Linked DNA regions of Homo sapiens: region 1 is linked to region 2. Evidence: fine-mapped expression QTL. A gene starts in region 2. The other region holds a variant in brackets. All regions are shown on one strand. Distances are from middle to middle. Region 1 has its middle 6.8 kb from the start of ZFP41. Region 2 holds the start of GLI4 (GLI family zinc finger 4).

Region 1 (2,898 bases), 27 kb before region 2:
AGTGGGATCTCTTAGAGGTGGGGGACTGGTCAGCATTTCTCCAAGCTCTTAGGAGTTTCAAATGAACAGCCCGAGCTGTGCCCCACTGCACCAGGGAGCTTGTGCCATCTGCTGCCACTCAGGCCCTGCCTGATCATCAGAGTCACTGGGAAGCTTCTAAAATTACAGGTTATGAGGCTTAACCCCAATGGCATTCTGTTTGACCAGCTCTTGGATGATGTCTGGAAATCCCTTTTTTTTTTTTTTTTTTTCTTAAAAAGATTCCAAACTGATTCTGATTATGAGCAGGTTTAGGAACCAATGCCATAAAGGGCGTGAAAACCAAGGTAGCAGCTGTCCCGCCAGGCAGGGAAGACCTGGGCACTCCCTAGGCCCTGCCATGCCCCACACCATCCTGGGCATCCTCCATCTTCACACCATTTGGTCTTCATTGAAGATCCCATGAGATCCTGTTCCTACCCCGTCATGCAGGAGGGACCGCTGAGGGCATCTGAACATTGTGCAGGAGGGAACGCTGAGGGCATCTGAACATTGTGCAGGAGGGAACACTGAGGGCATCTGAACATCGTGCGGGTGGGAACGCTGAGGGCATCTGAAGTTGAGGAGCTTGCCCACATCAGCAGTGGGGTGCAGGGGTTGGAATCCAGACCCAGACCCGCCTGCCTTGGCTCCATCCCACCTGCTGTCCGAGACTCTGGGCGCCTGCCTGTGGATCCAGGCTCCAGCACACCGCTCAGCAGGCCCCACAGTCCTGGGAGGTCCAAGCCCTGGAACAAAGCAAAGCGCAGGCCTGCGTCTACACACCTGTCTCTGTGGGCTCTGTTCCTCTGATGCAACCCTGACGGATCCATTAGTATGACTGGAATGTCCTTGGGATCAAAACTCACTTTTTTTTCTTCTTTAGACAGAGTCTTGCTCTATCGCCCAGGCTGGAGTACAGTGGCACATTCTCAGCTCACTGCAACCTCGGCCTCCTGGGTTCAAGCGATTCTCCTGCCTCAGCCTCCCAAGTAGCTGGGATTAGAGGTGCCCGCCACCATGTCCGGCTAATTTTTTTTGTATTTTTAGTAGAGACGGGGTTTCGCCGTGTTGGTCAGGCTGGTCTCAAACTCCTGACCTCATCATCCACCTGCCTTGGCCTCCCAAAGTGCTGGGATTACAGGCGTGAGCCACCGCGCCCGACCGGAATCAAAACTTTCTAACTTCTAAAAGTTAGATTCTGGCTTCTAAAAGTGTGGCGCTGTTTTAGGATGGTTTTAGGATGGCTCAGTCCATCCAGTGGGAAGATTCTTTAAGCCCCTTGAACGTTTGGGCTGGAGAGAGAGTGAAATGAGGGCAGAGGTGCTGATTGGCCCCACACCAGTCACTGACAATGGCAGCTCCCGAGACGGCCATGGGTGCAGCCAGTGGGCACATTGCCCCCATTTTAAAATAAC[T/C]TATAAATTACAAGCCAAGTTTAGCAAGTGGGTACTGCACTAAGGGCTTTGTGAGGACTTTTCACGTAGCCTTCACAATGACCCCACAGGGCAGGTGCTATCATCTTGCCCCATTTGACAGGAAATCTACTGACCATCCCAAGGCACACAGCCAGCAGTGGTGCTGATGTCCAGGCCCAGTGCTTTGACACTGTCGAGTTTCTTAAACCCTCTGAGCCTTCATTGTTTTATCTGCAAAGTGGAGACACCACCAGCAGTGAGTCAAGCACGAAACTAGGTGATTGATGCCTGTGCCCAGGATGCCGGGAGGATCTCAGCCACAGCTGTTGCCTGTGCCAGCCGCTGCGGAGAAGGATGCCACAGGCACAGGGCACCAGGGCGATGGGCTCTCCAGGGGCAGTGTCAGTGGCTCAGTCACCCACTGAGGCTGGTATCCCAGGCTCAATGCCCACAGGGGTTCCAGTGCAAGTCCTGGGCCCCAGGAGGACCCGCACCCCAGGGCTCATCAGTCAGCCAGTCAATCAGTCCACAGGCACTAGCTGAGCGCCCGCTGTCTGTGAAGCACCCTGGTGGAGCTGACGCTCTTATCCTTGGGCAGTAAAGAAGCGAACACTGCGGTTCAGGAGTTCAGCACAGCAGTCCTGGGGTCACTGCTAAGGTTCTCGTAGCCGCATTAAAAAGGGAAAAAGAAGCAAACGCAGGCCAGGCGCGGTGGCTCACGCCTGTAATCCCAGCACTTTGGGAGGCCGAGGTGGGTGGATCACCTGAGATTGGGAGTTCAAGACCAGCCTGACCAACATGGAGAAACCCCGTCTCTACTAAAAACACAAAATTATCTGGATGTGGTGGTGCGTGCCCGTAATCACAGCTACTTGGGAGGCTGAAGCAGGAGAATCTTTTGAACCCGGGAGGCGGAGGTTGCGGTGAGCCGAGATTGCACCACTGGACTCCAGCCTGGCGGACAAGAGCGAAAATCTGTCTCAAAAAAAAAAAAAGAAAAGAAAAGAAAACACAAAATCCCAGTGAGCTCTCTCTCCAGTGTCCTGCACAGACCTTCACAAAGTAAGGGCCACCCAGGAAAACTGCACAGAAGAGAGAAAAGGAACTGGCTGTGGGCCTGAGGTTGCTCTCAAAACATTTTCCAGAAAAAGAAAGTCCATCTGAGTGCCAAAATACAGAAAAGTGTCTACATTTTGGAAAGAAATTTAAAATGACTATGGAACAGGTGCAGCGGCTCACGACTGTAATCCCAACACTCTGGGAAGCTGAGGTGGGAGGACTGCTGGAGCCCAGGAGTTTTAGACCAGCTGAGGCAACAGAGTGAGACTTGGTAGCCAAAATAGTAAAAGACTGTGGGACACAGGAGGATAGTCTTGGGAAGGTAACGCAGGAGAGAAGAGGGTTAAAAGTTAGGGAGGAGTAGTCGGGTGCAGTGGCTCACCCCTGTAATCCCAGCAATTTG
Region 2 (2,898 bases):
CACTTGGTAAGAGCCAGAGCAAGAGAGGGGCGGAGGCGCCAGGCTCTTTTTAACAGCCAGCTCTCACTCATCACCAAGGAGAGGGCACCAAGCTACTCATGACCCAAATAGCCTCCCACCAGGTCCCACCGCCACCATCAGGGGCCACATTTCCATGAGATGTGCAGGGGGCTCACTTCCAAACAGTATCAGATATAGTACTAGTTCCTTTTTTTTTTTTTTTTTTTTGAGACAGAGTCTCATTCTGTTGCCCAGGCTGGAGTGAAGTGGCGCGATCTCGGCGCAATGCAACCTCCGCCTCCCGGTTCAAGTGATTCTCCTGCCTCAGCCTCCCAAGTAGCTGGGATTACAGGTGCCCGCCACCGTGTCCGGGTAGCTTTTTTATATTTTTAGTAGAGATGGGGTTTCTCCCTGTTGGTCAGGCTGGTCTCAAACTCCCCACCTCTGGTGATCCACCCACTTCAGTGTCCCAAAGTGCTGGGATTACAGGCGTGAGCCACTGCGCCCGGCGCTACTTATAACTTTTTAAGAAACTACCAAGCCAATTTCTAGAATGGCAGCACCACTTTGCCTTACCACTGGCGATGTCCCAAGCTGCTCCGCGACCTCAGTGATGCTTGGCACTTGTTAGCAGTTTTTACCTGAGCCACCTGGCAAGTGTGCAGTGGCACCCACCGCGATGCTGGCCGGCCCTTCCCTGACAGCCATCCCTTCCCGAGCCTATTGCCATCCCTGTGCCCTCTTCGGTCAAACGTCTGTTGCGGCTCTTGCCAATTTTCTAACTGGAATGTTTGTTTTCTTGCGGTAGAGTTTAGAGATTTTTACATATTATCAGCCTGGGGGCTCCTCCACCCACACAGCCCTGAGCGTCCACCCTGGCAGCTGTTGCCCGTCTGCAGGCCCCCCCGCCCTCTGCTCCGCGTGCCCCTCCAGCTCAGGGGTCCCCTCGCCTCGGCTCTCTGCACCCCTGCTCAAAACGGTCAAAGAACCCTCCCCGGCCGTTTATTTTTCCCAGAAAGTGACAATTTTCTCTTTTCAGGTCGTAAGCACAGAACTGAGGGAGAAACTGTGGCTGAACAAGAGGAAAATGAGGAAGGAGTCCATGAAGGGGCTTTGGGGAACCTGTAACATCCTCCTCAGGCTCCCGGGGACGCCCCTGGAAAGCAGGCAGAATCGAGGGCGCTGGGGCCCCCGCGAGGGGAGCGGGAGGTCGCGCGTCTCGCAGCGGTTCCCGGCCGCCGGTGACCATCGCTGCGGACACATCCCGAGGAGGGAACCCAAGAGGGCGGCGGGGGGGACTCGCGAGCTGAACGTGGAAGCAACTCCAGCCGAGGACCCCCGGAGGCCTGGAGTGCACGGAGGGGCCGCGGGCAGCGTGGGGACGGCGCCGTCATCTCCCGAAGCCCGGCCCCGCGCTGGCTCCCCGGGCGGTGCAGGGCCGGCGTCGGGAAGGAGGCTCCGAGGCGCCGGCTTCTGCGCCCCACGCAGCGCCGCTCCCCGCGCCCGGGCGCTTTGCAGGCGCGGGCGGGATCCGGGCCAGCGTGTACGCGAAAGCCACGCGCGGGCGCAGCCCACGAGGGGAGGGGCGGGGAAAGGCCTCCTCTTCGCTCCCGGCCCCGCCCCCACACGGCCACCGAGGCGTGCGGTCCTCCCGGGGCCCAGAGCGTCCCGGAAGTGCGCGCCGGCCGGGCGGAGTGGGGCGGGGCCGGACACTTCCGTCCGGCGCGCGGCGTCCTCCTCCCGCTCGGAAGGTGAGTGGGCGCGGGCGGCGGCGGCGGCTCCGGGTGCCTGGGACCAGCCCAGTCCGAGCTCGTGCGCCGTACTCCGCGGTGCAGCCCTGCCCAGCCGGGCCGTGCGGCCCTTGCAGCCGCCGCTCGCCGTGACCTTGGCCTTGGGCCAAGCCCGGGGAGCGGGGTGGGCTCCTGGGGGTCGCGGAGCAGCAGCGGACCGCCCCGCCCAGCGGCCCTGGCGATAGCGGGTGTCCGTTCGCAGGGCGCCTTTCCCAGGCACCCAGTGACGGCAGCTGTCGTCATCGCCACTCTGCAGATGGGAAACTGAGGCCCGGAGGTCCCGCCGCTCCGGAGCGAGGAGCCGCCGGACCCCAGCGCCGCACCGCCGGGCGGACGCGCTCTGTGCCGAGCTCCCGGCGATTGGGTCCGCTCCCACGGGGCTGGGAACAGAGGGGCAGAGGATGCTTCCCCCGAGCCGCTGGCAGGAGTGCCCTTCCCCCTTCAGTCTGGAGCTCAGAGTTTGTGCGTCCCTGGGGGTGAAGGGGCGTCCACGCTGTGATGGTCGCCTCTGCTCAGTCCTGGGGGCCAAGCCAGGGTCGGGGTGATCGAGCAGGCCCTTTTACCAGGTGTCCCCAGTAAGTTAACTAAGTAACTTGAGATGTGACTTCAGGGTGGAGGACCTGCACCCAGTGGCCACCTACCTGGTGACCTGACCCTTCCCATCATTAGGGGATGGAGGCTGGCCCAGAAGCCGGGCACTGGGGTGGCGGCCGTGTGGGAGCTGCCTCTCCCACTTCCTCGAAGCAGGCACTGTCTGCTGTTCTTAGATCTGAGTATCCGTTAACTTTTGTCCTCTTTTCCCGTTCCTTTCTTCACTCCCTGCCCCAGATTAGGAGTTCCTACTCTATCACAGTATGAAAGAAAAGTCACTTTTCACATTGGACTCAAGCCGTTTTTGCAAAGTAAACTAAGAAGTGTCTTGGAGCCCTGAGTGAGTCTCCCAGTGCTGCTGCAGGGCTGGACTAGGGGATTCCAGCCTGCAGTCTCTGAGGGCTCTGTAGGGTCTGAGGAAGAGAGTTGCCCTCTGGAAACGTCTCTTCTCTGCTGTTCGGGAAAAACCTTATTAAGATTTCCTCCAAAACACTCATGCGCAGCAGGCATGGTTCGG

Evidence for each region. PIP is the estimated chance that this variant, and not a neighbour inherited with it, causes the effect.
Region 1: its variant is the best candidate, but not a certain one, in a credible set for the expression of GLI4 in whole blood (TOPMed, PIP 0.57).

The regions. Positions count from the first base shown.
Region 1 is chr8:143,238,700-143,241,597 of GRCh38, forward strand. No RefSeq gene overlaps it. Among named protein-coding and RNA genes, the nearest start is that of ZFP41, 6.8 kb to the right of the region's middle. The variant T/C (reference allele first, on the strand shown) is at 1,437.
Region 2 is chr8:143,265,734-143,268,631 of GRCh38, forward strand. It overlaps GLI4 (GLI family zinc finger 4), which reads left to right and starts at 1,712. Exons shown (of 4, transcript NM_138465.4): 1 at 1,712-1,751. RefSeq lists silencers at 1,178-1,887, 2,048-2,167 and an enhancer at 2,728-2,898.